Homo sapiens: one gene and its partners. The protein of the gene in region 3 purifies or fractionates together with the protein of the main gene of each other region. This does not show direct contact. Each region holds a gene or a part of one and is shown on either strand. Other genes may lie near its edges.

Evidence for each region. The genes of interacting proteins can lie anywhere in the genome.
Region 1: the proteins of NELL2 (region 3) and SEH1L purify together in Homo sapiens (affinity purification with mass spectrometry; 2 studies listed by BioGRID and IntAct, with this or other methods). This does not show direct contact.
Region 2: the proteins of NELL2 (region 3) and EGFL7 purify together in Homo sapiens (affinity purification with mass spectrometry; 2 studies listed by BioGRID and IntAct, with this or other methods). This does not show direct contact.

What each region holds. Positions count from the first base shown.
Region 1 is NC_000018.10:12,957,475-12,965,217, reverse strand, and holds part of SEH1L (nucleoporin SEH1), read right to left. Parts: intron 2,059-7,743; coding exon 1,847-2,058; intron 783-1,846; coding exon of another isoform or gene 723-782; intron 1-722. UniProt on the Homo sapiens protein: Component of the Nup107-160 subcomplex of the nuclear pore complex (NPC). The Nup107-160 subcomplex is required for the assembly of a functional NPC.
Region 2 is NC_000009.12:136,665,380-136,673,122, forward strand, and holds the end of EGFL7 (epidermal growth factor-like protein 7 precursor), read left to right. Parts: intron 1-388; exon of another isoform or gene 389-438; intron 439-2,861; 5' UTR 2,862-2,903; coding exon 2,904-2,983; intron 2,984-3,177; coding exon 3,178-3,294; intron 3,295-4,226; coding exon 4,227-4,342; intron 4,343-4,534; coding exon 4,535-4,630; intron 4,631-4,789; coding exon 4,790-4,951; intron 4,952-5,222; exon of another isoform or gene 5,223-5,307; intron 5,308-5,570; coding exon 5,571-5,635; intron 5,636-6,546; coding exon 6,547-6,709; intron 6,710-6,884; coding exon 6,885-6,907; 3' UTR 6,908-7,299; downstream 7,300-7,743. UniProt on the Homo sapiens protein: Regulates vascular tubulogenesis in vivo. Inhibits platelet-derived growth factor (PDGF)-BB-induced smooth muscle cell migration and promotes endothelial cell adhesion to the extracellular matrix and angiogenesis.
Region 3 is NC_000012.12:44,508,800-44,516,542, forward strand, and holds part of NELL2 (protein kinase C-binding protein NELL2 isoform b precursor), read right to left. Parts: intron 186-7,743; coding exon 135-185; 3' UTR 1-134. UniProt on the Homo sapiens protein: Plays multiple roles in neural tissues, regulates neuronal proliferation, survival, differentiation, polarization, as well as axon guidance and synaptic functions.

The DNA.
Region 1 (7,743 bases), on a different chromosome or scaffold from region 3:
ATACGGTGAAACCCCGTCTCTACTAAAAATACAAAAAATTAGCCAGGCGTGGTGGCAGGCACCTGTAGTCCCAGCTACTCAGGTGGCTGAGGCAGGGGAATCGCTTGAACCAGGAGGCGGAGCTTGCAGTGAGCCTAGATTGCGCCACTGCACTCCAGCCTGGGTGACAGAGCGAGACTCCACCTCAAAAAAAAAAAAAAAAAAAAAAGAATGAGGAAATGGAAGGGGCAATGTGAGGGGGAAGCAATAAACTAATTCCCTCTTTTTTAAGAGAGGGGAAGCCAGGCACAGTGGCTCACACCTGTAATCCTAGAACTTTGGGAGGCCAAGGCGGGCAGATCACCTGAGGTCAGGAGTTCAAGACCAGCCTGGCTAACATGGACAAACCCCGTCTCTACTAAAAATACAAAAAAAACTAGCCAGATGTGGTGGCGGGCACCTGTGATTCCAGCTACTTGGGAGGCTGACACAGGAGAATCGTTTGAACCCAGGAGGCGGAGCTTGCAGTGAGCCGAGATCATGCCACCACACTCCAGCCTGGGCAATAGGGCAAGACTCCATCTCAAAAAAAAAAAAAAAAAAAAGAGACGGGAGTAAATATATAGTCTAAAAATTGATAAATATGTGTAGAGATATATATATTATTTGAAATTATAATAATTACCAGTATAACTCCAACAACTATCAACATCACCACAAATAAGATATCTATCTAGTCATACCTTGGGATGTGGAAGTTGTATAAATGTGCTCTATTCATCTTTTCTATCAGTTTGGATATTCTTTAATGATAACATAGCAAGAACATGTGGAAAAATAGCAGAATAAAAATTTTTAAAAAAAAGATAACATAGCAAGAACCAAAGGTATAAGTAAATCCTTTAAAAATATACTAGTGACTACCAGAATTAAAGTCTGAAAACAGAACTATTGACAGCATTTGTTTTTAGGGGGTAAAGGAACTTTACCTTTCTTTTTGTATTCTTATGGATTATTTCAATTTTTTTCTTCACCAAGTGATTCTTATAATTGTTTAAAAACAGTTTAATAAAAAGCAACTATGGTAATATTCATATAGTCATGCTCTATGCAGCAGTTAAAAAGAAATGAGGTAAGACTAGATATATTAATATATGGAAAAATGCCCACAATGTATCTTTAAGTGAAAAAAGCTAATTGCAAGGAAGGAAAATGTAAGGGTTTCTGGCTGGGTGCAGCAGCTCACGCCTGTCATCCCAGCACTCTTGGAGGCCGAGGCAGGCAGATCACCTGAGGTTAGAAGTTCAAGACCAGTCTGGCCAACATGGTAAAACCCCATGTCTACTAAAAATGCAAAAATTAGGCAGACGTGGTGGCGCATGCCTGTAATTCTAGCTACTTGGGAGGCTGAGGCAGGAGAATTGCTTGAACTCAGGAGGTGGAGGCTACTGTGAGCCAAGATGGTGCCACTGCACTCCAGCCTGGGCAAATGAGCAATACTCTGTCTCAATCAACCAATCAATCAATCAATCAAATGTATGGGTTTCAATATCTGGTGTTCTGTGTCTACTTGTGCTAGTGAATATCTGGGCGTGTTTGCATATATGTGTTTATGACAACATTAAATAGTTATTTGCATATGCATAGAAAACATCCAAAAGGTTCACATGAAAATATTTACAATGCCGGCTTCCTCTGTTGAGTGAAAACAGGGACAAATGACATGCCTGGGTGAAAAATGGAGAACATATACTCTATATATCTTGAGAAGAAGCACCTTTGAGAGAATAAATTATCAAATTGTTAGCTTAAAAGTTACTAGTTTATTTTACTAGGATGTTATCAGAGGTTTAATATGTAAACTTACCTTGAAGGGTTCCAAGAAATACAACTACAGCTTAGCTTACATGAGATCTCATGCTGCAAAGACCACTGGCTGAGATTCATAACATCTGGTGCCTCATAGATTCTTACTATACCATCTGCGGAACAGGTTGCTAACATAAGACCCATGTGCTTGGGAGCAAACTTCACATCAGTAACAGATGTTCTGCTATCCACCAGAGTTGTCCTTTTAACCTAAAAAAAAAATAATAACAATTTAAATTATATACAAAAAGAAAGCATGGTAGAGTGGAAAAGACACACAGACTCTGGAATCACACAGAAACTCCTCTATCATTCACTAGGTATATAAGCTTGGATACATCTCTGGGCCACAAGTTCCTACAAGTACATGGCAAAATACCACATATATAGCTGGGAATCACTAACAAATTAGTGAGCTATAATTAATTACTCCCTTTAATGAAAAAAAAGTCTACCTCCAAAAGCCTACCTTTGTTATATAAGTAATCTCTCTTAAGCAAACTGATCACAAAAAAAAAAGAAAATGTTAGAATTTTCAGACAAGAAGTTTTGTCACACAAAGCATGCTGCAAGCATTAGACCCTTTAACTGTAAATGAGTTGGGCGTGATGGCTTACACCTGTAATCCCAAAACTTTGGGAAGCCGAGGCAGGCAGACTGCTTGAGCTCAGGAGTTCAAGACCAGCCTGGGCTACATGGCAAGACACCGTCTCTACTAAAAACTAAAAAAAAAAAAAAGCCAGGTGTGGTGGTGCACGCCTGTGGCCCCAGCTATTCCGGAGGCTGAGGCGGGTGGATCGCTTGAGCCAGTGGGGCAGAAGGTACAGTGAGCAAAGATCGCACCACTGCACTCCAGCCTGGGTGACAGAGTAAGACCCTCTCTCAAAAAAAAAAAAAAAAAAAAAAAAAAGAAAGGCATGCAATTTCTTCTCTCAAGAATAATTTTCTGTTAATCCCATTTGGACCACTATTATTATTATTTTTTTTTTTTTCTTAGGGACAGGGTCTTGCTCTGTCACCCAGGCTGGAGTACAGTACCATGATCATGGCTCAAGTGATCCTTTTGCCTCAGCCTTCCCAGTAGCTGGGATGACAGGCACCTGCCACCATGCCCAGCTAATTTTTCTTATTTTTATAGAGATGGGGGGGTCTCACTATGTTGCCCAGATGGGTCTCAAACTCCTGGCCTCAACTGATCTTCCCACCTCAGCCTCCCGAGTTGCTAGGATTACAGGTGTGAGCCACTGCACCCAGCTACCATGCACTTTTAAGTGAAGGCTTTTAACAGGGACCAAAAGAATGGTAGAAAGCAAGCTTTATGATCACTGTAAAATTCCAACATCACATTTAAAAGTTATCTTCTGGCACACAGATAAGATGAAACTTTACTAAAAACATCAATAAGCTCAGGTGCAGTAGCTCACGCCTGTAATCCCAGCACTTTGGGAGACTGAGGCGGGTGATCACTTGAGGTCAGGAGTTCAAGACCAGCCTGTCCAACATGGTGAAACCCCATCTCTACTAAAAATATTCAAATTAGCCAGACATTGTGGCGGGCGCCTGCAATCCCAGCTACTAGAGAGGCTAAGGCAGGAGAATCGCTTGAGTGTGGTCGGCGGAGGCTGCACTGAGCCGAGATCATGCCACTGCACACCAGGCTGGGTGGCAGTGCAAGACTTTGTCTCAAAAAAAAACTAAGTCAATAAAGTTTAGCAATCAACAGATTACTGTCTATGGTTACCAAAATCCTTCTTAAAGAGTCTCAACATTAAAAGGATAATATTACATAAACTTCAAAGATAACATCTTAGCAAACTTTTGTCTACAGACACCACTGAATAATTAATACAAACACAAATGTTGAGAAAATAAATGCATTTGTTACAGTAGGTAGTCAGACATGAGCAGGGCAGCAGAGGACCCCACCCCACCAGGAATGTCAAGCAACCATCAGGTGATGATCAGGCAGTTGTTAAACTTTCTCTCTAAACTAATCATTGGTTGCAGCCAGTGCCAGGGAAAGGTAGTCTCCCAACAGATAGAAACACCTGAAACTGGTGATCAGCAGCTTCCTGATAAGATCTGAGGAGTTGGATGACTGGGCTCAAGCATGTGCACTAAGAGGAAAAATGGTGGAGCTTAACTGATCTATGACCTTCTAGGAACATTCTGTTAAGGGAAAAACGCCTCAAGTGAGCATCTGCGCAACTCCAGTAAACACACTGCACACGCAGCCCCTCCCAGGCACTAGTGGGCCACTGCACATGCGGACTGCCCACCCCAAGGGAAGAATCAGAGAAGAGACGCAACCCCTGGGAAGCATGCCAACGTGTAACAACCCAAGTCCAAGATCAAACCATGCATTTGACTCTCTCAAGTCACCCACTTGGCCCTCTTCCAAATGTATTTTACTTCATTTCTGCTGTAAAATTTTTTAACAAATTTCCACTCTGGCTCTAAAACTTATCTTAGTCTCTTACTCTGCCTTATGCCCCTAGGTGGAATTCTTTCTTTTGAAGAGGCAAGAAATGAGGCTGCTGCAGACCCATATGGATTTGCCACTGCTAATATATTAATGAAAGATGACTAAACTAAATACAAATAAGTATCTTGAAATTCAAAGAAAAGTCCTTCTTATGCCACCACTCCCAAATCCAATCTATAGTATACTGAACTGACACACCTCAGACTTAACGCCAAAAAAACTTTTATAATTCTATAAATTTCTATTCCTTCCTCCCCATAAGCAGCTGTTTGGCTTAGGGAAGCCCTAGTGCAAAGGCAATCAGACATACTCCTCCCCTGAGAAGAGCTGTAAAACAGTCTGAATAGCCACTCAAGCTACAAAGCTACCGGAATTAAAACAGTGTGCTATTAGGACAAGGAGACATACAGATAAATGTCCACAAGAGAGCCCAGAATGCAATCCTCCATATATATAGCCATTATTTTCAACAAAGGTGTCAAGACCATTCAACAGGGGAAAGAATGGTCTTTTCAAGAAATGGTGCTGGGAAAACTAGATTTCAGCACCCTAACATTTTTTAATGACTGAAATAAATAATTTGTATCAGGCCCTTGCTTGCTTGCGCATGTTAACCACTCACTTTTTGCTGAATATCCCTTGTTGCCACAATATAATGATAAACTGTTGATGTACTGCTTCTTTGTCAATCAAGAGAAGATAACTTCAGCGTCATGTAAAGAAAAATGTTGCCAGAAGAAATGAATGGCTTTAAGGACACTGTGACCAGCTGCTAACAACCAGACATCTGGTTGCTCAAGGCGTTACCTGAGACCAAAGAAACACAGACTTTTCCACTGGATTCTGTGAAACTCCCCCTCCCTTACTAGATCTAGTCACATAAAATCTACCCAATGCTTCCTTTTGTTTAGATGGATTCGAGAGATCTTGCCCTCCCATCTTCTTGCTTTAGCCAAATCGAATAAACCTTTCTCTATCTCCAAGTACCGGTGACTCAGTGTTTGCTCTCAGCTCCACATTGGGGATACAAGCCTGAATTGAGGATTCTATAACAATCTTAGAAGAAAACATTGGGGAAAGTCTTCATGACACTGGATTTGGCAATGCTTTCCTGGATATAACACCAAAAGCATGGGAAACAAAAGAAAAAAATTTAGATAAACTAGACTTCAAAATTTTAAAATTTCGTGCATCAAAGGAAACCATCAAGAGTGAAAAAGGCAACCCACAGAACGGGAGAAAATATTTGCAAATCATTTACAGGTTGTGCATATCAAATCCAAAAATCTGAAATCTGAAATGCTCCAAACTCCAAAACTTTTTGAGCACTGGCATGATGCTCAAAGAAAATGCTTATTGAAGCATACCGAATTTCAAGTTTTTGGATTTAGAATGCTTAACTGGGGCTGGCCACGGTGGCTCACACCTGTAATCCCAGCACTCTGGGGGGCCAAGGTGGAGGATCGCTTGAACCCAGGAGTTCAAGACCAGCCTGGGCAACTCTATTAAGTAAATAAATAAGTAGGCGAATGCTTAACTGGTAAGTATAAATGCAAATATTGCAAAATCCAAAATCCAAAATCCAAAACATTTCTGGATCCTAGCATTATGGATAAGGAATACTCAACCTATAACAGATAAGGGATTAATATCCAGAATATATAAAGAACTCCTATAACAACAAAAAACCCAATTTAAAAAAATGGGCAAAGGATATGAATAGTATTTTCCCCAGGAAGACATACAATTGACCAATAAGCACATGAAAATAAGGTCAACATCAGTAATTATTAGAGAAATGCAAATCAGAACCACAATGGAGATGCCACTTCACAACACAGTCACTAGGATGGCTACAATAAATAGCACCACAACAAGTGCTGATGAAGATTTGGAAAAACTGGAACCCTTGAGCATTGCTGGTAGGAATGTAAAATGGTGTAGCTGCTATGGAAAAGTCTGACAGTTCCTAAAAACGTGAAACATAGAACTACCATATGAGCCAGCAATTCTACTCCTAGGTATATTTCCAAAAGAATCGAAAGCACGGTCTCAAACATTTATCTGTACAACAATGCTCATAGTAGCAGTATTCACAATAGCCACGAAGTAGAAACAACCCAAGGGTCCATCTACAAATGAATGGATAAACAAAATGTGGTATACACACACAATGGAATATTACTCAGCCATAAAAAGGAATAAAGTTAATATATGCTACAAAATGGACAGACCATGAAAACATTTTACTTAGTGAAATAAGCCAGTTGCAAATGGACAAATACTGTGATTCCACTTACATGCAGTACCTAGTCAAATTTATAGACAGACAGTTGAATAGGGGGTAGAGGGAGGAGGAAGGGGGAGGCATTCTTTAAAAATATGGAGTTTATGTTGGCAGTGATGAACAGTTTTGAGTACAGATAACAGTGATGGGTACACAGCACTGTGAACGTAATTAATTCTACTGAATTATACCATTTACAAATAGTTAAAATGGGCCAGGCATGGTGGCTCACGCCTGTAATCCCAGCACTTCAGGAGGCCAAGGCAGGAGAATCATTTGAGATCAGGAGTTCGTGACCAGCCTGACCAACATGGTGAAACCCTGTCTCTTCTAAAAACACAAAAAAATTAGCCAGGCATGGTGGCACATGCCTGTAGTCCCAGCTACTCAGGAGACTGAGGCAGGAAAATCGCTTGAACCCCGGAGGCGGAGAATGCAGTAAGCCGAGATCCCACCACTGCACTCCAGCCTGGGTGACAGAACAAGACTCTGTCTCAAAAAAAAAAAAAAAAAAAAAAAAAAAAAAAAAAAAAGTTAAAATGAGGAATATTATGTTATACATATTTTACCACAATAAAAAATTGCATCATGGCCCTCGTAGTGGCTCACGCCTATAATCACAGCACTTTGGGAGGCCGAGGTGAGAGGATTGCTTCAGTCCAGGAGTTCAAGACCAGCCTGGGCAACATGGTGAAACCCCATCTCTACAAAATAAAAAAATCAGCCTGTGGTGCATGCCTGTGATCCCAGCTACTTGTGGGGCTAAGGTGGGAGGATCACTTGAGCCCAGGAGGTTGAGACTGCAATGAGCTGTGACTGGCTCTAACGTAGTATCATGCCATTAGGGAGGGCAGGTGAGGGGTAATAGCAGGACACTCCCACTACACACTTCCTTTTGTTTCTTTTGAATTTTACACCATGTGCATGATTATCTATTACAAAAAACAAATCATAAAGGGGGAAAAAAAGCATGCAGATGATAATACCTTCATATGAAAATGCTGGAAAGAGTCTTAAATATAATCTAGTTCAATGTTTTCACTTTATAGATGAGGAACTTCAACAGCACACAGATTATATTATGTTCTTGCCCAAATTCAAACATCCAATAAGGCAAAGACAG
Region 2 (7,743 bases), on a different chromosome or scaffold from region 3:
AGCGGCTGAGATGGGCGTCCCGGGGTGGTTTTCAGCCTGGGGGGCTTGAAAGCTAGCAAAGGGCCCGCAGCCCCGTCAGTGTGGGCGCCCTGGGCGGCCTCTCCTGGCTCCTGGCGGCCGGGCTTGGTCGTGCGTCCCCAGCGACCGCGCAGCGAGCGCCCTGCCGCGGGGACTCGGGCCCCAGGATTCCCGGAGGGGGTGCTGGCGGGCCGCGGCTCAGAGGCGCGTTTGCGTCAGCCCCGGGTTCCAGCAGAGTCACTGCCCGCCCGGGGGCAGCTCGTCCGCCGCGGGGCCTCAGTTTCCCCGTCTGCGCAATGGGGGCGGGGCGGGGCCGCCAGGTGGGGCGGGGCCGGGGGCGGGGCGGGGCGGGGCTCGGGGCCCCCACGGCGCGGGCTCGGGCGGCAGTGGCGGCGGCGCGTGCGCGCCCCGGATCCGGCGGTGAGTGCGGAGCGAGCGGGGCGCGCCGGGGTCGGGGTCCGGTCGCCGCCCGGGCTGGGTCGAGGGCGGGACCCGCGGAGCCCCCGGGGGCGGGGAACCTGGCCGCGCGCGGAGCTGGGGGCGGCTCCGGGACGAGGCAGCGCGACCGCTGGGGCCGGGGGCGGAGCGGGCCGGGGCGCCCGCGGCTGGGTCGGGCCGGGCCGGGAGAATGGGCCCAGCGGCCCCGGGAACCGGCTCCCCCTGCCGGCGGCGGGCGGGCGGGCGGCGCGGCGGGGAGGGCCGGGGTCGCCGCGGCCCCTCGTCCGACCCGGCGCGACTCAGCGCCTCGGGGCCCAGCCTGTGCCGCCTGCTCCGCCCCCCGCGAACCCCGGAGCCAGCAGCGCGGCTGGGAGGGGGCGGCGGGCAGGTCCGTCTCGCTCCGCCTCTGCGCCCTCCCTCGTGGGCCCCGCGGTCCCCAGCCCTGCTCCCGCCGCGAGGGGTCCGCCAGTGCCTGCGGCGCAGCCAGGCCCCTCCCTCTGCGGACCCGGCCTCTCGCGGGTGGGGGCTGCGGGGCTGCTGCCGGGCAGGTGGGGAGGGAGCCCGTGGGCGCTGGGGGCACGGGGACCGGACTGCTGGTCCACCTGGCGCCGCCGCCCCCTCCCCGCCCGGCACCCCTGGGTCGAGGCCGTGGCCCCCCCCGGGGAAATGGGGCTTGCAGCACCGGCTCGGAGAGCACCACGGGCTTCCTCTGGCCTCGGGAAAACATGACTTTCAAAAATTGAGTCTCCACTTAGCACCGCTTCCTGTCCAGGCGACTCTCAGGAATTGTGGGGGGGAGCTGTGCCAATATGTGTGGGGGGCAATGAGGTCTGGGAGATTCGCCTACCCCCAGGCCCGCCCTGGCATCCCCCTGCCCACATCAAGCCGCCGGGCCGCTGCCCTACCTCTTCCTTCCCGGGTCCCACTCCCCAATGTCCCCCGACTTCGAGTCTTGCCTTGAGGTCGCACCAGACCCAGCCCCTAACAGTGTCCTTCATCCAGGGCCCATCCCCAGAGTTAATCTCCAGCCAGCTCTGCCCCCTCGACAAACTCCTGCCCAAAAACTGCTGTGATGCCCCCCCTGCCCCCAAGCTAAGTCCCCACCCCTCAGCTGCCCAGGGCAGCCTCTGCCTAGTTGGCAGCCTCTGCCCTGCCCTCCTCTCTCCAGCGCACAGAGGACTGGAGGCCCAGGAAGGACCCCCAGCCACCCTCCCCGCTGGGACCGGGTGATGCCTTGGCAGTGCCCGTGGGAAGCAGGTGTGGGATCGTGCTCCACACCCAGTGGGGCTGGCCAGCAGCGACTGAGGACAGTGTGACTATTTATAGGACTGGCTGTCAGAGCTGAGGAGGGGCCTCAGAGACCCTATTCTAGTGTGTGAGGAAACTGAATCCCAGAGAAGGGACAGCCTTACCCCAGCCTCTGCCCCGACCCGAAGCCTGGCCTTTCCCTGCGGAGGGCCCTGCAGTGCCTCGGAAGGAACCCACCCAGCCTTTGGGAAGCACCCGTGAGAGGCCCTGGGTGGGACCCTGCAGCATGGCAGGGGCTCGCCAGGTCTCCAGACCCCTGGCTGCGCATAGGACAGAATCCCCATCCCCGGCATTGCCACAGACCATTAATTCTGGGCTCTCATGCTCTCAGGAAGCCTCACCCGGGCCCCTGGCTCCTGCTGCACAGCCAGGAGGGGGTTGGATTCCGGTTCCGGTGACACTGTCGGGGGCTGCTCCTCACCCCCAGGTGTGCACCTGGCACAGCCACTGTCCCAGGATCCCTGGAGGCTGATTGCACACATATCCCAGCCTGGGAAGGACCCCCTCTAAAATGAAGGCCGCCCCTCTGGTGGTCTTAGAATGTGTGCACCCTCCGCACGGTTCCTGCTGGCTTGCAGCTGCTGGCCCACCTGCTGGGGCCGGTTCCACACTCAGATGAGAAATCAAATTCCAGAAGGGCTGAGGCCGGCAGGTCCCTGGTGGGGCTGGATCCCAGCTCTGCCCACGAACACCCCGTTTGCATAGACTGGGGTGCAAACTCACCCCTGCCCTGCTGTGAGGAGGGCCCTGGAACCAGGCAGGACAGGAGAAACGGCCACCCGTAGCTGGAGCCATCCTTCCCGGAGCCTCGGGCAGATGCCCAGCAGGATCCACTCGATTCCTGCACCAAGAGCTCTGGACAGCGTCACCCCCCCTGTGCCCCCAGGCTGTGGCCCCAGCTGTTTGTGCCTGGCGAGGGTCTGGCTAGCTGGAAGAGGGGGCCAGCGGAGGAGAGAGTGGGCGCCACCGTGGGGCTGTCCCACCGGTGGAGGCTCCAGCGGAGATGAGCTGGGCAGGCCTCGCGGAGCAAGTGCAAACTGCACCCGCGTCCTGGGGGCATCTGCGGGGAGACTTAGGGGTCATGCTTTGTGCCCCAGGCCACCCAGAGGAGAAGGCCACCCCGCCTGGAGGCACAGGCCATGAGGGGCTCTCAGGAGGTGCTGCTGATGTGGCTTCTGGTGTTGGCAGTGGGCGGCACAGAGCACGCCTACCGGCCCGGGTGAGCCAAGCCCTAGCCTGGGAGTGCTGGGGTGGGGGGACCGGGAGCCCTCAGCACCTCCTAGAGGCGGCCCTCAGCACCTGTCGGGGACTCCCTGGGGGCTCCTGCTGAGGGTCCTGCCCCGGCCACATGTTCCCATCATTCTTGGGTCCTGCTCTGGGACTCCTGGGCTGACCCCCTCTCCACCCCCGCAGCCGTAGGGTGTGTGCTGTCCGGGCTCACGGGGACCCTGTCTCCGAGTCGTTCGTGCAGCGTGTGTACCAGCCCTTCCTCACCACCTGCGACGGGCACCGGGCCTGCAGCACCTACCGGTGAGTGCCCCACCACACCGAGCTCACCCAGCCCCAGCCTCCCAAGTCGGCCACACATCAGCATGTCAGGGGCGAGGCGGGGGTGAATCCTGGGACCCAAGATGGGAAACTGAGGCCAGAGCCATGAGAGGGCTGCCTGAGATGGGCGACCCAGGGCGGCCGGAGCCAAGGGGTTCCACGATCACCTCCAGTGTCCTAATCCTTGCTCTTGCCCCGACACGTCTCAAAGGACCGCACCTCTAAGAGCATCCCCATGTTTAGAGGGGTCACCCATCCTGTCTGCACCCCTCCACTTCCGGGGGACTAACCCCTCCCTACCCTGGCATCCCTGGCTGCAAGTTCCCATATACACAGAATGGTGCCTGACTCCCCTGGTCCCACTCCACTGGGCACCCCCCTCCACATGACGGCCCCCAGTGGGCACAGATGAGACCCTGAAATGTCCTGTATGCCCACACAAGGGGCACACACCCCTAAGTCTCAGAGTCCTCCTTCCTGGGTGTGGGAGCTCCACCCCCTGCTGGGGGAGGGGCCTGGGAATTCAGACTTCTGGAGGTTTAAGAAGGGCTCCGATGCCCAGGGCCCACACTCTGCCGTGACTCGCCGTAGGCCGGGCACACCCTCTCCTCTGGGCCTGGATGCCCCCACAGTAGGAGACCAGATAGGTGGGGGCACACACAGGCCTGGCCACTGCCTCTGCTCCATGCGGAGTGTGGCTGGGCCTTCCTGCTGTGGCTTGAGTCCCGGCCAGCACCGGAAGGCCCAGGCAGGGAAACGGCTGTGCAGTGACCCCTCAGTGCCATCCCTTGAGGAGAAGACCCTTGGGGGCATGCTGGGGTGACCCTGTGCACTCTGAGAGGGGACTCTAGATGCCCAGCAGGTGACTAAGGGGGAGTAGGATGCCCCTCTGAGCTGTCCCACCCACCCCACAGAACCATCTATAGGACCGCCTACCGCCGCAGCCCTGGGCTGGCCCCTGCCAGGCCTCGCTACGCGTGCTGCCCCGGCTGGAAGAGGACCAGCGGGCTTCCTGGGGCCTGTGGAGCAGGTGAGGGCTATGTCCCTCGGCGCCCGGTGTTAGGAGGGCGACTGTTCCCCAATCTTCCAGCAACGCTCCTGCTGCTTTTCTTGAACCCCGAGCAAAGCACCACCTTGCCGCAGAGCACCCACTCCCTAGCAGCTGCCCCCACAGGGTGCTGGGGACCCAACTGAGCTGGTGACCAGCCTCCCCCGCCCACAGCAATATGCCAGCCGCCATGCCGGAACGGAGGGAGCTGTGTCCAGCCTGGCCGCTGCCGCTGCCCTGCAGGATGGCGGGGTGACACTTGCCAGTCAGGTGAGGCTGGCTCTACCCTGGGGGGCCCTGGAAGGGTCCTGGGCACCTCCTTGCATGTCCTGGGGTTACTGCTGGCCCATGAGTGGGTGGTTGTGAAGGGAGCTGTGTGGGCAGGACCCCTCCCGCAGGCATGGCCGCCTGACACCCCGTTTCCTGCAGATGTGGATGAATGCAGTGCTAGGAGGGGCGGCTGTCCCCAGCGCTGCGTCAACACCGCCGGCAGTTACTGGTGCCAGTGTTGGGAGGGGCACAGCCTGTCTGCAGACGGTACACTCTGTGTGCCCAAGGGAGGGCCCCCCAGGGTGGCCCCCAACCCGACAGGTAAACAGCCCTGGCTGTGCCTGGCCTGGGGAGGCGGGCAGGCAGTGGACATTGCCGTGTGGCTGTTAGGCATGGTGGGGGGCACTGGAATCTGGGCGGAAGGCGGTGGGGACTCCCTCTCCAGGGAGGGAGGATGGGGAGGGAGGATAGGTGGGTTCCCGAGAACTGGGGGCAGGTTGCCCGGAGCCTCATATCAGCCAAGAAGGCAGAAGTGCCCCGTCCCGGGGTCCTGTCTGCATCCAGCGCAGCATTCTGGAAGACGCCACGCCTCCGCTGGCGACGGGACATTATTACTTTTGGTACGCGCTGTGACACTTCAAACTCGTACCGTGAGTAATAATGCGCCGTCCACGGCACCGCATCGAAAACGCCGCTGAGACCTCAGCCTTGACCTCCCTCAGCGTGGCCGGGACCCTGAGCCTCTGCGCAGAGCCACCCGCCCCGACGTACTTAGGCGGCATAGCCCTGAGACCTCTGGCCAGCGCCAGGCAGGCAGCGGGGGCGGCAGAGGCCTGGGCCTGAGTCTTCTGGCTCTGCCTCTCCCTGGGGACAGGAGGGAGCCTGGGGGTGTGGGTGGGGAGCCGGCCGGCCGTGACCCAGCGCCTGGCTCTGCCCGCAGGAGTGGACAGTGCAATGAAGGAAGAAGTGCAGAGGCTGCAGTCCAGGGTGGACCTGCTGGAGGAGGTGAGGCATTGGTGGGGGGGGGGGGGGGCAGGCAGTCCAGGGTGGACCTGCTGGAGGAGGTGAGGTGTGGAGGGGCAGGCAGTCCAGGGTGAACCTGCTGGAGGAGGTGAGGCATCGGGGGGGTAGGCAGGCAGTCCAGGGTGGACCTGCTGGAGGAGGTGAGGCGTCGGGGGGGCAGGCAGTCCAGGGTGGACCTGCTGGAGGAGGTGAGGCGTCGGGGGGGCAGGCAGTCCAGGGTGGACCTGCTGGAGGAGATGAGGCGTCGGGGGGGGAGGCAGGCAGTCCAGGGTGGACCTGCTGGAGGAGGTGAGACGTCGGCAGGGGGCAGGTCTTCACAACAGCAGAGGCCCAGGCCCGGGTACAGGCTCCGTAGTCTCCTGGGACATGGTCCCGACCCACGGATGGCTGGGGGTGGTCTGAAAAGGTCCTGGCCCTGGGGAGGTGGCTTCCTCGCTGCTGACTGCCGAGGGGGCCCTGGCCTGGATCCATGCTGGGCAGAAGCAGCTGGACACTGACCAGGACCCCCCAGGGCCGGAGGAACCAAGCTTGACAGCCCCCCAGACAATACACAGAGCCTGGACCCAGACGAGACCTCCCCACCCCCCCATCTTTGTCCCCACCAGGACAAAGAGCTCTTGCCAGTCTTCCCACTGGCCAGTGGTCCAGCTGTCCCCCTAGTTCTCCTGCCAGGGACCCCAAGGCTGGGACCACCCCGCCAGCCTGATGCCCCAGGCACCCACTCTGCGGCAAGCTTTTCTGCCACGGCAGCCCCCTCTAGTGGACACTTGGAGCCCTGCCGCGGAGGCGGGGGCTGGAGGCTTGTGGAGCCCTTCCCAGGGGTCCTCCCTAGACCCCGGTGGAGCAGAGAGGGCGGGGGCCGGCCCAGGGTCACTGCCCTTCTGCACCCACAGAAGCTGCAGCTGGTGCTGGCCCCACTGCACAGCCTGGCCTCGCAGGCACTGGAGCATGGGCTCCCGGACCCCGGCAGCCTCCTGGTGCACTCCTTCCAGCAGCTCGGCCGCATCGACTCCCTGAGCGAGCAGATTTCCTTCCTGGAGGAGCAGCTGGGGTCCTGTGAGTGCCCCCACCCTCCAGAGCCCTCCTCCCGGGTCTGGGCCCAGTGGGCCTAGAGGGGCTACCCAGGCTTGGGGGTCGGGGGCGACCAAAGGCCAAGGGGCCAGTCAGATCTAGCTGGGCGGGGAGGCTGTGGGGAGCAGTGATCTCTGACCTTCGCCTCATCCAACCCTAGGCTCCTGCAAGAAAGACTCGTGACTGCCCAGCGCCCCAGGCTGGACTGAGCCCCTCACGCCGCCCTGCAGCCCCCATGCCCCTGCCCAACATGCTGGGGGTCCAGAAACCACCTCGGGGTGACTGAGCGGAAGGCCAGGCAGGGCCTTCCTCCTCTTCCTCCTCCCCTTCCTCGGGAGGCTCCCCAGACCCTGGCATGGGATGGGCTGGGATCTTCTCTGTGAATCCACCCCTGGCTACCCCCACCCTGGCTACCCCAACGGCATCCCAAGGCCAGGTGGGCCCTCAGCTGAGGGAAGGTACGAGCTCCCTGCTGGAGCCTGGGACCCATGGCACAGGCCAGGCAGCCCGGAGGCTGGGTGGGGCCTCAGTGGGGGCTGCTGCCTGACCCCCAGCACAATAAAAATGAAACGTGAGCTGCTGTGTCAGTGGATGGACTGGGGGCCTGGGAGGAGGGCGCTCACCTCCTGGCCACCCCTCCCAGACCCACTGCTGGGTGCCAGCTGGCAAAGGGGGCCTGGTGGAGCGGGCAGTCGTGGGGTGGGGAGGGGGTCCAAGGCAGAGGGGGTGGGCAGGTGGTTTCTGTGAGGCCACAGAGAGCTTTGTCCTGGGGACATGTTGGCCCCAACCAGAGGCCAAAGAGCAAATCTCTGGCCTCCTTCCCAGTAGCCTGAGGATCCCGGCACACTTGCCCGTTAGGCGACACCCCCACCCATCGATGGAAGTAGTATAGGGTGATGTGGGTCCACTCCTGGATAGGGAACACGGGTGGGTGGCGGTGCCTGCACCCTGGGCCTCTAGGCAGGGCAGCTGGGAAGACACAGCGTCGCCTCCACCGCCCTGGTCACCTGCCCGCCCTG
Region 3 (7,743 bases):
TTGAAAGTTCACTCAGCTATTAACAAAGCTGCATTTAGCTGCCCACAAATCACCCAATTTAAGTTTTAACTTCTTTTTGGTCTTTTAATGAAAGAACATTCTTTTAACAGAAATCTCCCATGAGACAGTTAACTTCACAGTTCCTGAAGGCACTGTGGATCCACTGAGCAACAGATGTGGCCATTCTAGATTTAAAAAAAGTAGAAAGAAAAACAGTATGAATTTTTAAGCCATTAGTAAATGATCACATTTATTGATTGGTACTTACAAACAAAACTGTATAATTTATTTCTGCATTCCTAAAAATTCAATGGCCCAATCACTTTTCATGACTCTACTATTGCAGACTCAATTATTATGCCCATTGTATTTGTGGGAAGTCATAAACTGGCTTTATTTACTCATTGGCATCCTCTGTATCACATTTGTTCTTTCATTTATTTGCAAAATATGTACTAAGTCTATGTAAGCACTAAGTATATTAATAAATAAAGCAGACATGGTCACTAACCTCACAGAGCAGGGTTTGCAGTTTATCTAGGGAGAAAACTAGTAAGTACCATGCAAACATATAATCAAAAATTGTGAAAAGTGCTAGAAAGGTGCTATGAACTAAATGTTTGCATCCTCTTAAAACCCACATGTTGAAATCCTAATCCCCAGTGTGATGGTATTAGGAGGTAAAGCCTTTGAGAGGTAATTAGTGAATGAGGGTAGAGCACTCATGAATGGGATCAGTGCCCTTACAAAAAGATGAGAACACATGCGTCCTCTCTCTCTATCTACCATGTGATACAATGAGAAATGGCCATCTGCAAACAGGAAGTGTGTCCTTGGAGATACCAGATCTGCCAGGGTCTGGATCTTGGAATGTGAGAAATGAATTTCTCAGCCTCCAAAATTGTGGGGAATGAATTGTCGTTGTTTAAGCCACCCAGTCTATGGTATTCTGTTACAGCAGCCTGAACTGACTAAGACAAAAGGAAATACACTAGGTGGTTGTGTGAGATTAATAAAAGACTAGCTACTTAGTCAATGTCCAGGGTAGACTGTTCTGTGAGGTGATATTTAAACCGAGACCTGGAGACTGCATGAAAAGGTGGCCAAACGCACAGAGGAGAGTTTTGTGTAGTTAAGAAACTGAAAAAAAGCTTTGGGTAAGAATTTTCAGTTAGGGAAGAAAACTGTGGTGATGAAATAGGATAAATAGGCAGGGAAGGGCCAGATATGCATAATTAGTTTTTGATATAAGGTATCAAAACAATATAGTGTTGTACAAAGAAGAAAAACCTTCTATCCTATTCTTTTGATTCCCTGCACTCTTACTTTTCTCAACCAGCTAACTCATAGATAATGTTAATATCGTTTTTAAAACCGTGATGATGATAATATCCCTCCATTCCTTAAGTGTGTACTCTGTGTCAGACACTTTGCCAGGCATTTAAAATACATTATCTAATTTCAACCGCACAGCATTCCCAGTTGGATTCCTATTAATAGTCACACGTTTTAGATTCAGAAACTGAAGATCAGAAAGCTTAAATATCATGTCCAAAATCACACAGCTAGTAAATGGTAGAGCTAGGATTAAAACTCAGGCTAGCCTGACTCTAAAATACATCCTCCATTATATAGTTTCTCTCAGAAAATTGGCTTTTGATGATTGAAATGCATTATACTTTAATATGATAAAAACTGAAAGTGTCTTTGTTTCTATAAAAGGAAACCTGAAAAGATTTTGATAGTCTAGCCTTTGCTAAAGCACACTGATGAGGAAAAAGCCAGTATATATCCAAGAAGAATATTATCAGTTTAACTTATTTGCATCTTTTCTAACTTATTATTAAGCTGAGTTCATATTCTGGCAGTGACAGACTCAACCATTTCTTAGACCCCTAGTGGCATTTTAAAGTTTTGTCATCATATCTCCAGCCCCTAACATATTCCTAGAGACAGAACTGTTCGATTGAGACTTGTAGAACTCAGCTGTGCCCTAGAATCTCCAAGATGCCCCAGGCTGGAACCATCTTTGCCTCTCCTGTCTGACAAAGGCCACTCTGAGGTGCCGGCTCAGAGGCACAGGTTTTCTGACCATAACCAGGTCACACAATCTTTCTTAATTCATTGGCCCAACAAAGTGATGGGTGTACCAGTTCCTGGGAATATCAGCTCCTCAAATTATATGGCTTTGGAGCAGAAATATAATTAGGGAATTTCTGGAGCTTTCCATCACTGAGTATGTGCAATTAGCATTAGAACCCTATGGGGAAGAAACCATTAATATTGCACCCATAAGTATGTCTTAGGAAGGGTTTCTTTGTTTTCTAAAATCTTCCAGGAGTGTGTTGCTTATTCCATATTGGATATGTTCTGCTATAACAGGATTCTACAAACCATATCAATGGCAGCTCCTTAATTAGGGAAGCATGGACAACTAATAAAGCATCCTACTTGGGTTCCAGTTTTACTGATAGCATAGTTTCTTATATAAGACTAACCCTCCTATAGATAACAACTATAAAGTCTGAACAAAATACAAAAATAACAATTGAAAGCAATAGAGAGTGTCAGGCAGACACTACAGCAGTTTCAATCTTTGAAAGAAGGAAAATGTACTGTGTGAGTGTTGTTTTCACTTGGTATTCCCCCTTAGGGCACTCCCCAGTCTGTGCAGCTTGAGATAACTATAAGGAAAGCAGAAAGCCACAATCTCACTGAGGTGTCAGAGGACAGCTTGGGAGTTGTCAGAGTGGCTGGAAATTGAGGGGGAAATATCTATAAAAGAAGAAGTGAATCAGTAAACAAACTCCTTTTAAATCCTTGGCTGATCTTTGAGTTGCAGAAGAGATTCTAAAGAGCAAATCAAGAGAGCCACAGTTTGAAGGTTGAAAGATATGAGAAGAGCTTTCAGATGCTGCTCACTGAAGCAGTGCGTCAGATCTGTGTCCTTCTAAGATATAAAGGATTGATAAACAGTTTAAGTTTTCCTTAGACTTCTATCTCTCACCACCTATAAAAAATCAACTAAAAATGGATTAAAGATTTACATGTAGTATTAATACCTGCAACTATAAAACTACTAGAAGAAAACATAAGACAAATGCTTCAGGACACAGGTCTAGGCAAATATTTTATGAGTGAGACCACAAAAGCACAGGCAACAAAAACAAAAATAGATAAATGAGACTATATCAAACTAAAAAGCTTCTGCACAGCAAAGAAAAAAATCAACAGAATGAAGAGACAACTTGCAGAATGGAAGAAAATATTTGCAAACTATTCATCTGACAAGAGATTCATACCCAGAATGTACAGGGAACTCAAATAACAGCAAAACACTGCAAGTAATCCAATTAAAAATGGGCAAAGGATTTGAACAGATATTGCTGAAAAGAAGTCATACAAATGACCAACACATATATTAAAAATGCTCAACATCACTAATCATCAGGGAAACGCAGGTCAAAACCACAATGAGCTATCATCTCACTCCAGTTAGAACAGCTTTTATTAAAAAGGAACAAATTACAAATGCTGGTGAGGATGCAGAGAAACAGGAACCCTTGTGCACTGTTGGTGGGACTGTAAATTAGTAGAGCCATTATAAAAAACAGTATGAAAGTTTCTCAAAAAACTAAAATAGATCTAACATATGATCCAGCAATCTCACTACTGGGTTTTTACTGAAAGGAAAAAAAAAATCAGTATATTGAAGATATATCTGAACCCCCATGCAGTATTTTTCACAATCACCAAGATATGTAATCAACCTAAATGTCTATCAACAGATGAATGAACAAAGAAAATGTGGCATATATCCACAATGGAATACCATCCAGACATAAGAAGAATGAAATCTTGTCATTTTCAACAACATGGATGAGACTTGGAGGACATTATGTGAAATAAGCCAGGTGCAGAAAGATACATACTACATGTTCTCTCTTATATGTTGGAGCTAAAAAATTCATCTTATAGAAGAAGAATTATGGTGATCAGAAGCTAGGAGGAGTATAGGGGAGAGGAGGATAGGAAGATGTTGGTTAAAGTATACAAAATTACACAGCTAGATAGGAGGAATAAGTTCTAGTGTTCTATAACACTGTAGGATAAATATAATTAATAATAATTTATTGTATATGTTCAGAAATCTAGAAGAAAGGATTTTGAATGTTCCCACCACAAAGTAATAAATGCTTGAGGTAAAAAATACCCTAATTACCCTGATCATTGCATACTGTACATATGTATCAACACTCTGTACCCCCATAAATATGTGCAACCACTATGTGTCAACCAAACATAAAAGGAAAAACCAAATAATCCAAGCTTTCCATTGAAGGCCTAAAAGGGCCATGATTAGGTGTAAAACAATACCTACAGATTAAGAGATTCATGCTAAAACTAAAGGTAAATTTGAAACAGACCCCCCCTAACTGGTGTAAAGCCAACCTCTAATAAGTGCTAGGTTATTGGCTAATAATTTACAACCTGCTAGAACAAAAACAGTCTTCACAAGAAGCCAATGGAACCTATGATCTATAAAACATATCATCCATCATATCCAATATATTATAAAAATTAATAGACGTGAAGAAAAACAGGAAAATGTGGCTCCTAATGAAGAGAAAAAGCAGTGAATGGAAAATGACTCGAAGATGATCCAGATGTTGTAATTAGCAAAGACTGGAAAGTATCTATCATAAATATGCTCAAAAATGTTAAAAGATACAGTCATAATGAATGAATAAATGGTAAAACTTGGCAGAGAAATTAAACTACTAAAAATTAAGTGGAAATTCTGGAACTGAAAAATGCAATATCTGAAATGAAAAGATTCACTGGATGAACCTAATAGCAGATTAGAGATGGCAGAAGAAAAAGCCAGTAAATTTGAAGACAAAGCAATAGAAATTATCCAATCCATAAAACAAAGACAAAAATATTGAAATAAAAATAGAACTTTAGTGACCTTTAGGATAATTAAACCATCTAAGCGAATGTTTAATTGGAGTCTCAGAAAACTATGAGAGAAAAAAATGTGGCAGACAAAATATGTGAAAAAACGATGGCTCAACTTTTCTCAAGTTTGGTGAAATGACATCAACTTAGATATCCAAAAAGCCCAGCAAACACCAAAGAAAATAAAGACCAAAAAAAAAAAAAATTAGACCTAAGTGCATCATAGTCAAACTACTAAAAACAAAGATAGAGAATCATGAAAGGAAAAAGTAGGGGAAAAAAGAAATACTGCATACAAGGGAATAAAAAAACAAATGATCACTGTATCAGAAACAATGGAAACTAGAAAATAATAGAATATCACCTTTAAAGTTCTGGAAACAAATCTGTCAATCCTGAATTCTATGTCCAGTGAAAATATTCTTCAAATATAAAGACACTTTCAGATAAATAAGAGTTGAAAGAACTTGTTACTAGCACACCTGCAATAAGGAAAATGCTAAGGAGTGTTATTCAAGCTGAAGGGAATGTAACCAGATGGAGACTCCAATATGTAAGAAGAAATGAAGAGTACCAGAAATGGTAAATACGGTAGTCTTTCCTTATCTGCAGTTTATCTTTCCACAGTTTCAGTTACCTGTGGTCAACCATGGCCCAAACAAGTGAGTAAAATGTATGATAAAACATTTTGACAGAGAGAGATAGAGAGAGAGACAGAGATCACATTCACATAATTTTTATTACAGTATATTATTATAATTATATTTTATTATTAGTTATTGTTGTCAATCTCTTACTGTGCCAACTTATAAATTAAATTTTATTGTAGGTATGTATAGAAAAAACATAGTATATATAGTGTTTAATAAGGTTCAGTATATTGTGGTTTCAGGCATCCACTTGGAGTCTTGGAACGTATATCCCTTGTGGAAAAAGGAGCTATTACTATATGTGAATAAATATAAAATATACCATTTTTCTTTTCTTAATTTCTTCAAAAGACATAAAACTTATTAAAGCAAAAATAATAACATGGAACTGTAGGATTTATAGTGAACAGAGTTGTAAAATATATTACTGTTTTAGCACAAAAGCTATGGGGATAAAATCATAATGTTGCAAAGTTCTTATATTTTATATGAGTAGTATAATACTATACCTAATTATAATATAATAAGTTAATGATATATATTATAATCCGTAGGACAACAAATACAATAATAATATGAAAAGTTATAGTTTAAAATCCAATAGAACAATTTAGATAAAATAAAAATGTTATTAAAGAAAAAGAAGGCAGGAATGGATAAACAGGTGTATAAAATATAGATAGGACAAATAGAAAACAAATGACAAAATGGTAGTCCTAAATCCATCAGTGTCACAAATTACATTAAATGTAAATAAACAAAACACTTTAATAAAAGACAGATTTTCACACTAGGTGAAAAATAAGAACAATACATTTTCTATTAAAAATGCACTTTAAATATAAAACCGTTGACAGATTGGAAGTAGATGAACAAAACAATATACTATGTGGCTAAATAAATATTAGACAAAATTAATTTCAAGTCAAGAAGCCTTGCTAGAGATAAGGAGGGACATTACATAACAACAAAATGGTCAATTCAACAGAAGATATAAATGAGTACAAGCTGTGTAATTCAATTCATATGAAATTTTATAACAGGCAAAATGAATTTATTACAAAGAAATAAAATTAAGGTTGTCTACTGAAAGTAGGTGTTACCTGAAAGGGGATCCAAAGGTACTCTCTGGAGTGTTGGATATATTCTGTATTTTGATTTATCAAACTCATCAAACTATATACTTAACTGTGAATTTCACTATAATAAATATTAACTTGATAAAAATGAAAATAAAAGTGACTCACTGAAACTCAGTCTGACTACTAGGAATAATAAGCACCTACTATCAAAACTCATTATAAAAAGTAATTATTTTTATATAGTGACACAGTAAAATAAGTTTCCTTAAGACCCTGCTATTTTTGGCTATATTTATTGTTAAAGAAGTCCTTGCCACTCTTCATGCTAACCTTTGAAAATCAAGATTAGAAGACAGTCAACTTTTAATTTTCAGCTACACTTATATTTTTTAATCCTATTACTATTGATATTTCAATATGTTTTAATAGAGTCCATTTCCTTTATTTTCAAGATTTTTGTAGTTAAATAAAGTGAATATGTAATTATACATAATATTTTTTGTTTGTTTTCATTATTATCATGACCAGTACTTTTTTTTATTATACTTTAAGTTTTAGGGTACATGTGCACAACGTGCATAATATTTTTATCTTAATTTTTATTATAAGCATTGTGATTACTTCAACAGCTGAATAATAATATATGATCTTCTAATATGTAATTAGAATATATTATATAAGTATAACACATCATATAATTGCATTGTATACAAAGTTACTATAACTTATTTAACTGTTCTATTGTTGGATATTTTCGTTTCTTCCTTAATTCTGTATGACAATGTTGAGATGGATATTGGCATGTATATAGCTTGTTTTATACTTTGATTATTTCTTTAGGTTAGATTCTCAGACCTGGGATTAAAGAGAACAATATATTTGTGTGTGTATATGGGGGTGCGGATAGTATGTGTTGCATTGTGTATTTTTTAATGATATTAACAGTGCACAAAAATAATAATTCCAGTATATCTCTGTCAGCATTAGAAATTATTAGGAGAAACTTTTTTACTATAGTATGTGAAAATAATTATTTATAATTTTAGTTT